Regions from separate parts of the Homo sapiens genome. Here all the other regions are reported to be linked to region 1. The links are microRNA targets in miRTarBase. Many come from high-throughput screens and were not tested one by one. Region 1 holds a microRNA gene; each other region holds the end of a gene's coding sequence.
The links. The annotated mature microRNA hsa-miR-571 reads UGAGUUGGCCAUCUGAGUGAG and lies in region 1 at 1,906-1,926, shown strand. An mRNA with a match to its seed (bases 2 to 7 or 8) in the 3' UTR can be bound and repressed. Matches are read on the target gene's strand: a 7mer-m8 pairs with bases 2 to 8, a 7mer-A1 pairs with bases 2 to 7 and ends in A, and an 8mer does both.

Region 2: miRTarBase lists SYDE2 as a target of hsa-miR-571. Seed matches in the 3' UTR shown: 7mer-m8 at 2,594-2,600.
Region 3: the mRNA of NUFIP2 is a reported target of hsa-miR-571. Seed matches in the 3' UTR shown: 7mer-A1 at 2,941-2,947.

The regions. Positions count from the first base shown.
Region 1 is chr4:348,312-351,669 of GRCh38, forward strand. MIR571 (microRNA 571) reads left to right here and starts at 1,846; the gene lies at 1,846-1,941. The region is part of intron 3 of ZNF141 (zinc finger protein 141); the gene reads left to right.
Region 2 is chr1:85,155,910-85,158,909 of GRCh38, forward strand. SYDE2 (synapse defective Rho GTPase homolog 2) reads right to left here. Exons shown (of 7, transcript NM_032184.2): 7 at 980-3,000. The coding sequence ends at 2,841. Among named protein-coding and RNA genes, the nearest start is that of MIR4423, 24 kb to the left of the region's middle.
Region 3 is chr17:29,261,772-29,265,129 of GRCh38, reverse strand. It overlaps NUFIP2 (nuclear FMR1 interacting protein 2), which reads left to right. Exons shown (of 4, transcript NM_020772.3): 4 at 539-3,358. The coding sequence ends at 591. Among named protein-coding and RNA genes, the nearest start is that of CRYBA1, 17 kb to the right of the region's middle.

The DNA.
Region 1 (3,358 bases):
AGTTATTGCCGAGACCAATATCAACAAGGTTTTTCCATATGTTTTCTTCATGAGTTTTAAGATTTCATGTCTTAATTTCAGTCTTTGTTTTGAAGTCTGAAATTAGAAAGCATGATGCCTGCCAGACAAGGTGGCTCACACCTGTAATCCCAGCACCTTGGGAGGCCGAGGTGGGCGGATCACTTGAGATCAGGAGTTCAAGACTAGCCTGGCCAATATGGTGAAACCCTGTCTCTACTAAAAATATACAAAAACTAGCTAGGGGTGGTAGTGGGCGCTTGTAATCCCAGCTACTCGGGAAGCTGAGGCAGGAGAATCACTTGAACCCAAGAGGCAGAGGTTTCAGTGAGCCTAGATCACTGAACCTAGATTGTGCCACTGCACTCCAGCCTGGGTGACAGAGCTGGACTCCATCTCAAAAAAAAAAAAAAAACAAGTATGATGCCCCCAGCTTTGTTCTTTCTCAAGATTGATTGCTCAGGTTATTAAAAGTCGTTTAAGGTTACACCTAAATTTTACAATTGTGTTTTCTATTAGTGTGAAAAATGCCAATAAAATTTTGATAGGGATCACATTGAATCTATAGATCACTTTGGATAATATTCTTTGACAATATTAGTTATCCTAATGGAATATGTTTCCATTTATTTGTTTCTACTTCACTTTCTGTCATTGATATCTTATTGTATTTAGTGTATAATACTATATGTTTTTTATGTCATTTGGTTAAATTTATTTTGATTAACTTTCTTATTTTTATACTATTGCAAATGGAAATGGTTTCTATTTTTGGAAAGTTTGTTTTTACTCTATGGAAATGCAAGAAATATTTGTATGTGGTGCCAGGTGCAGTGGCTCATTTCTGTGATCCCAGCACTTTCAGAGCCCAAGGCAGTTGTATCATGTGAGTACAGGAGTTTGAGATAAGCCTGGGCAATAGAGTGAGGCCCTGTCTCAAAAAAAAAAAAATCCCAACAAGCATCTATATGTTGATTATGTATCCTGATACTTTAATGAATGCATTTATTAGTTCAATCAATTTTTCTTATTTTACTCTAGGGTTTTATGTATATGCATGATGATATTATCCACAAACAGTAACTTTTTTATTTCTTTTCCACTCTGGAGAGCTTTATTCTCCTTTTCCTTGTCTAATTGTTTTGATACAAACTTCCAGTCACATGTTAAGATAGAAGCTGTGGCCCTGGAGGCAGGCCTGCAAGTCTTGTCCCCGGCTGTGGTCTCTGAAGCAGCCCTGTGTCTGCATTTGACAAATTTCACAGTTTGTATAAACTATTTTTGGCAGGTAAAGATCTCCTTTTGTTGAGTCCCAGGCTGATGAGATTACCTCTGGGGTTGCAGAGAAGAAGGGTTGTAGCTGGGTCACAAGGGTGCTGCTGGGTCTGCTGTGGGGTCTGCCTTTGATGATTGTATTACCAGAGATTTGGACAGTCATGGATTATTTCTGGGCCCTGGAGAGATTAGATTTCCTTGAGGATATTAATCTATATGGCAGGCAGTAGACTAGGGTTTTGAAGTTTGTCTGCATATGATGGGCCAAATACCAGGTGTATGAATGGGTTTGGCTTCTACTGACAACCTGGGAACAGTTTCCACACTTTTCTCTTTGGGTCCCTGATTGTGTACAACTGGCCATGGACTGTGACTGTGAGGGCTAGAACTGAGTCACAGGGCTCAGGAGCACAGCTGAGGCCAGGATATACAGGCCTGCCTCCAGGGCCATGGCTGGGTGTGTATCTCCCTGCAGGTCTCTTGATGGGAAGGACCACGTCTGGACTGTAGCTGAGATTGAATTTGAGAGAGGTTACAGAACTGCTTCAGAATCCTCAGTAAGACCAAGCTCAGTGTGCCATTTCCTTGTCTGTAGCCATGTCTATGGGCTCTTGAGTTGGCCATCTGAGTGAGGGCCTGCTTATTCTAAATAACCCTCGATCTCTGGCTCCACTGAGGTTTCACAACCCTAACCATAGGCAAGCACCTTTCTACTTCTGCTTTCTATGTGCTTACTACTTAAAATATTGTATAAAAATGGAATCATGCATTGTCACTTTGTTAGCGTCTTATTTCACTAAAATAATGGCCTCAGGATTTATCCTTATTGTAGCATCTGACAAGACATTTTCATTTGAAGCTAAAGAATATTTCATTGCGTGTATAAGCCACATCTTTTAAAATCTTTCATTCATTGAAGGATGTTTGAATTTTTTCACTTTTTCACTTTTGTAAATTATACGGTTTGGATCTATGTCCCCATTCAAATCTCATGTCAAATGTAATCCCTATTGTTGGAGGTGGGGCCTTGAGGGAGATGATTGGATCGTAGGGTTGGCTTTTCATGAATAGTTTAGTACCAGCCCCTTTGGTACTGTCTTTGCCATAGTGAGTGAGTTCTCCCGAGATCTTATTTTTTATTTATTTATTTTTTGAGATGGAGTCTCGCTCTGTGGCTCAGGCTGGAGTGCAGTGGCATGATCTCGGCTCACCGCAAGCTCCACCTCACGGGTTCATGCCATTCTCCTGCCTCAACCTCCAGAGTAGCTGGGATTACAGGTGCTTGCCACCATGCCCGGCTAATTTTTTGTACTTTTTTTTTTTTTTAGTAGAGACGGGGTTTCACCATGTTAGCCAGGATGGTTTGGATCTCCTGACCTCATGATCCGTCCACCTCAGCCTCCCAAAGTGCTGGGATTACAGGCGTGAGCCACCGCGCCCGGCCTGAGATCTTATTTTTTAAAAGCATGTGGCACCTCCCCTCTCACTCTTGTCTTGCTCCTGTTCCCACTGTGTGAGATGACTCACTCTCCCTTTGCTTTGTGCCGTGACTGGAAGCTTTCTGAGGCCTCCCCAAAAGTAGAAGCTGCTGTGCTTCCTGTACAGCCTTCAGAACTATGAGCCAGTTAAACCTTTTTTTTTTTTTTTGAGACAGAGTCTCGCTCTGCCACTCAGGCTGGAGTACAGTGGCGCGATCTCGGCTCACTGCAATGTCCGCCTCCCAGGTTCAACTTATTCTCCTGCCTCAGCCTCCCGAGTAGCTGGGACTACAGGTGCCTGCCACCAAGCCTGGCTAATTTTTTTAATTTTTAGTAGGGGCGGGGTTTTACCATGTTAGCCAGGTGGTCTCCTGACCTCATGATCCGCCCCTCGGCCTCCAAAAGTGCTGAGATTACAGGCGTGAGCAACCATGCCTGGCCGGAGAAACATTTATACTTCCATATACTTGTTGAAGTATAAAATGTAAGTGCCTTACAATTTTCTTTCCTCCTAAAACATAAGCACTGAGTTTGAGGCATTTTCCTGGATTTTTCAACCACTGAGTTCTTTTTATATAAAACTAAGT
Region 2 (3,000 bases), not on the chromosome of region 1:
GAAGTACAAGGTTGGTCATTTCCTCAATGTTATGGAAATATATTTAAAGTCAATGGATCAAAAAAATTATTAACTACAGTTATAAAGGAGAACAAATGAACTAAAAACATAACAAAAATGGTGAGAAGGAATGAAGTGAGATAAACTGTTTATCATTCATAGAATAACAAATTTGGCTTAAATGATAAGAAACAGCAGCAAGAAACGTGCTGTTAACCTCTAAGAGGTGAAATTGGTGTGGATGGCAGACAGAAACACTTGTACTTTTATTTTCTATCCATCTGAATTGTTTAGAATTTTTATTCAGGTACATGCTCTAAAATTAAAATTGTTTTTAATCCTAAAAAACATTAGGGGCTGGGCATAGTGGCTCACGCCTGTAATCCTTGCACTTTGGGAGGCTGAGGCGGGTGGATCGCTTGAGCCCAGGAATTTGAGACCAGCCTGGGCAATATACTGAGATCTTGTCTCTATTAAAAAAAAAAAAGAAAAGAAAAAGAAAAATTAAAGCTGGCAGCCTCAGAAAGGAGCAACAGTTGACACTACAGAAAGATCCTAGGAAATTATAAAAAGCAGGTATAAAAACTCGCAAAAAATATTTGAAGTAAAATGCCATTTAAAGTAAAGACATCTAAACTTATCCAACACTTCTGGTACAGCAGAGTCAATAAAAGCAGTTTATAGCTATAACTCGGTGATGAGACAACAAAAAAATGATAGAATTCTCTAAGAGGGCAGAGATCAACTTTAAAACTATTCTCATCCAAAATAATATAGTAATATAGTAATACAAGCATGGCCCTTAAAAGTATTTCAGATTCTGGAAAATTCTGGACAAATAAATGTTATTTACATATATTGATGGATAATACATGATGGTCCAAAATTTTAACACCTTTGCTTAAAAAGAATATTAAAATAAGTGATCCTTAAAACCATTATAATAGCATAACACGAAGATTATAATATTTTAATAAAATTTTTACATTTCTAGAGCAATTTATTCAATTCATACATGATATAGCAACAAAAGGAAGGAAACTGAGACAGCTTTCCTATAAAACATTCAAGAGTACTTTCCTTTGACTGTTTACTCAATATATATGTTCTCTTGGTATTCTTCTGAATTGTTAACACAAAGTTTTAAAAAATGAAAATTTCATATAAAAATATTTATCTTTTTTAACAATGGGTTTTCAAATTAAATAATGTCTGTTTATCAATATTTATTGCATAGAAATATTTTAAGTACTTTAATATTTAGAAAAACATCAGGAAGCCAGTTTTTCAATGGCTGCCATGTCTTAAAAGTTGGTAACTTAAAGTCTATTTATAATTTTAAAATTACATATTCTGTAGATATAAAAGTTAAAAAAATACATTTTGATTTAATACAAAAGCCTTCTAAATTTACATTTTCAAACATTACTGTGATTCTATAACATTGTATATATACTTAGCCAAAATAAGTTAATTTTTAAAAATCAGTAACATGTAATATGCTGGCAAGACTATTTAGAAACAAATGGGGGTAATTATAAAGTCAATGTTATAAATGTACTACTACAAATAAATAATTAAAACAAAGCAGAATATAAAAATGCATAGAACAGGAGCAGATTTATTAAATCTAAGTCACCAGTGCAGAAATCTGGGTACTTAATCCCTTAAGGAGTTAGAGGATTTCAAATTTAAAAGATGACTTTTCCCAGGGGACATTGTGACTTTCTGTGAATAAAGGAAAGAAAGTCTATTATTTCTATTCAGATGCTTCTAGAGTATTATTGTTCAAGTGTTTTTATGTAATTCCTCCTTTAATTTAAATGTTCTTTCCCTGAAAAAAATACTTTAAGATAATAATTTTGGCCTCATGACATATATACTTTAAAAATACATGTGATTCTACAATAACCCCTCCCCCATCCTGATATCTATACATATATGCATTTATAAATATATACAGTTTCAGGATTATAAAAATATTTAATTTTTATAAGCTTAAATAATTACTGTTAATACAGAAAACATTAATACTTGTATAATTTCACTTTTATTTATAAAAAGATTTTCTTATAGCAGCATTTGCATTACAAATAAAATTTGACCAAAGGATGTTGCAGTGTACCAGGACCAGTACTGCAAATCAGACTGAGCAGCTGTGATGTTCCTCTAAAAGAACATCTAGAGGCCAGGCGCAGTGGCTCACGCCTGTAATCCCAGCACTTTGGGAGGCCAAGGTGGGCGGATCATCTGAGATCAGGAGTTCGAGACCAGCCTGGCCAACATGGTGAAACCCCATCTTTACTAAAAATACAATAATTAGCTGGGCATGGTGGTGGGCCCCGTCATCACAGCTACTCGGGAGGCTGTGGCAGGAGAATCACTTGAACCAGGGAGGTGGAGGTTGCAGTGACCTGAGATCGCACCAGTGCACTCCAGCCTGGGCGACAGAGTGAGACTCTGTCTCAAAAAACAACAAAAAAAAGGACATCTGTCTCAGCTACAGAAGAGTGGTTCCCATAAAGCAGAAAAACCTTGAGGGGCTAATAACTTATGTGAACCTTCTTAAGTGCATTTGAAAGTTATCTCCATAGAGTTGGCAAGATTTAGTAAAATATCCCAAGAAGTCCAAGTTTTATTGATCCCCAGAAAAGTTTTCTAGTGAGATAAGTAAAAATTGTATTAATGAATAGTGTTTTTAATTGAATCAGATAAACTTATTAAAAATTAATTAAAGATTTCAAGAGTAAAAAAATGAAAACATCGCTGTGGGTGGTATAAGAAAATAAAACAAAAACAGATTTGAAACTTTAAGACATTACAAAAAAAAACCCTCAATCTCAAAAACTCATATTAAGCTTGTTTTTGTTGAGCTCACGTTCCAGATTTCCAATCAAAGTATCAATACTTTCTTGTAGATCTTTGAGATTGTTTTTTCGATCCACTGTAGACTCAACTGTCTGCATTGTCAAATATGTCTGAAATGTACACTCTTTGGAC
Region 3 (3,358 bases), not on the chromosome of region 1:
TGGTGTTACTGTGGGAAGTTGAGTCAGTCTTGATTAGGACTGAATTGGCAGTTTTGCTAATTAATTTAACGTCAAGTTTTTGGTGGCAGGTTTTACTTAGATAGTTCCCACACTGGTTAAAATAAATTTTGACTTCATTTGCTGGGAACAGCAAAAGAAAAATCCAAGTGTTTCTTTTAATATTGGATTATTGGTGACAAGCTTTTTTCTTTGGCTGCTGTATTCAAATACACTGCTTTTGTAATCAGTAGAAGTACATAAAACCCTTAAGTGAACTCAACCATCTCTGATCTGCAGGAGTTGAGGCCCTCACTGGCTAGAGGACCCTGTACTTGGAATTCATTGGAATTCCAAATAGCTACTTCCAGGTTGAGAAACTGGATCATACATGTGTTGGTACAAGGAGGAAATGGGCTTGAAGTTTTGTTTTCATAAAAAAATTGGTCAGTTTAAATGATGGTTATTTGGGATTGTTATTGGAATACGGGCATTTTGAGATTCTAGACCTTATTTTTATTTATTTTTTTAACCTTTCTAGATCCCAAAAGGATAATCACTTACAATGAAGCCATGGATAGTCCAGATCAATGAAGGACCAGACTGCCTATTCGTAACCTTTCTGCAGCATTAGAGCCATCGTTCATGGGGGACACAAGGCTTTTATGCTCCTAGATCTTCAACGCAGCAGAGGAACCATAAGTAGAATCACAGGATAATATATACAAATATATATATATACATATATATATATATAGTTATTTAAAAAAGGCAACTGAAAGTAATTAGACTTCTTAAGGAATCAAATTTATTTCAAGAGACTACACATGGTTATTTAATCTCCGGTACTGAATAGGTTTTTTTTCTTCTGTTAGTTTTTGTTTTTAAGTGTGAATGCAAGTGATTAATGAATACAGACTTAACAAGTGTGGTTCTAAAGTTCCTGCTGTCATCAACTTGGGCAACAAATGACCCACTGGAAAGGCAAATCCACTTAAAAGATCTCTGTATCTTGTTCTGTGACTGAAGTGATACACTAATCACGGGGAACCCAGAATGATTCAACATTTTCCCCCCACTCCTCCCTTGATCTTTTTGGTTTTACTTTAATTAAGCCCTGCGAGAATGCTGGATAAATGCCTTGAAGTTAGCAGGGTGTATTTTTTTAGCGAATATGATTTGCATGTCTTGCCAGGAGTTAAGCGGCCTCTGGGGTGTTGGGGAAATACTTTATTTCTTTCCATTTATTTTTTGTGGGGCGGGGATAGGGGAGGGCATTGAAGTTCTACAATTCTGGAATAGTTAGTTGATGGTACATAGTTAACTTGGCTTCGGTTACATATTGGACTTTAACAACTGAAGAATCTATGCGTGTCATTTAAAGAAAAGTTGCAGAACAAGCAATTGGCTTAGATATACAATCTGGAAAAATATTCCTGTGCCCATATTTTAATGTAATTGTATAACTGGGAGCAAAAATATATTCTGCTTTTCAACTGTAGGTGCTCCAGACTTGCTCTCCGTCACTAACACTAAATGTGCTGTTTTCCTTGTTTTTCATCAAACATTTAAGACAAACTTAGACCTTTCTGTAAATTATCTTTTAATTTCTCAGCAAAATCTAAAAGGGGAAGAAAAAAGTCCATGAAAACTAAAACTTTTCATGTTTTTAGCCAGTGAGAAGATAATAAACCCTGACTGTAGAAGGTGTGTTTTCATGCAAACTATACTTCTGAGCTTGTTAGCTTCTAATTATATCTTAATAAATATATTTTATTACTAGAGCAAGATGGGTTTTTAAGGAAAATAATGTGAAATTCTGGAAATTTTCTTTGGGGCAGAGAAGAGCATTAGCCCTGTCTTATCATTACATTGCCATCCTGTTGCACTGCAGCTTGTGTATAGCATGCTAAAATAAATTTTTGTGTGTGTGTGCAGAAATTAAGGGTCCAATTGAGATTGGGTGATGTTAGTAACATAATAACAAGTTGTCTGGCCTGACACAGCATCACATCACACACACAGAAATTAGTATATCCATGTATGTCAAATACAGGTTAAAATATCAGGGCATTTATATAAAGAGTTGTAGTCTTCTGATAAAAGTAGACTGGATCCCCTGGGGTATTTGGGGAGAAAGTAACTACTTTGGCTCTACCCCTAGAAATGTCCAGTTTTGAGTGACTGTAGTATGGATGGGTTTTCTTGTTTTGTTGATTATTTGAGGCTTTTAAAACAAGTAGTTCATGAAAGAAGCTGTTGGACTCAACATAGAGTAGAGTAACTATCTTTTTAGTCTGGATTTCTGCCCTGCTTAGATTTTAAAAGTATAAGCATGGATTGCCAATTCCACTTGATGTAAACAAAACTTTTTTTTATACATAATATATATATATATATATAAAATAACTTATTGTATCAGTCCAGGTTCAGAAACTTGTGGTAGGCCAGTTCCAGATAGTTTCATTTCACCTGTAAACTGTATCACTTTGACTGATATTGTAATTTTCAAATGTATAATATGTTTACAGATGTGCCCTGCATTTAGTCTGCCTTGTTCCTATTTTGATTTTTGTTGAGTCTCCTGCCTGCTTGCCAAAAGCTAGGATGCTTCAGGCCCATGTACAATTGAAAGCAGAGGCATCCTTGAGCTTTAAAGCATTGAACAAACTGGAAAATGCAACATACCACATAACTGAAGTGAAAAAAGTCTGTGTTTTTGTGTTTTTTTAAATAAAAATTTTCAAAAAGTTAAAAAAAAAGACATATAAGGTTGATTAAAGGGAAAAAAGGCTCCAGTTTGTTTTACAGGTTTTAAAGTTCTGCTGTGTGTTCAATTGCCTTGTGTAACCACTTGTCGCCTTAGGGCCAGATTCCCCTCTCTAGTCCCCTTTTTTAAATGTCCATTTTGCTTGCCTGGAATTTTAAAGTTCTTCCGTCTCACAACTCACAAGAAACTTTCTGGGTTTGTGACATACAGAGGTTGAATTGAGTATATATTTGAAAAGGAAAAAACAAAAAACAAACCCAGACCCCACCTGAATTGGGCTTTTTAACTTAGAAGCAACACTTGATTAAACATCTTTAGAAAGCTATTGCTTTTCTAATTTCCTTCCATATCCCTCAGGCCTCAGTGTTCAGAGAAGCCAAAAAGAATGTATCACTTCTCTGTCTGTCCAAAGGTTTTTGAGAGTCTCACTTCTAAATGAAACAATGCAACATTTCACTTTGATTTCTCCACTGAAATTTCCTTGATTATATGGTTAGAGGTATGTAGTTAGGAATGTCTGTTAACTTTCTGAGAACCCTAGTGCCCCATCATATTAACTGTCAGTATTTTGGGGGCATTAGGTTAATAGAC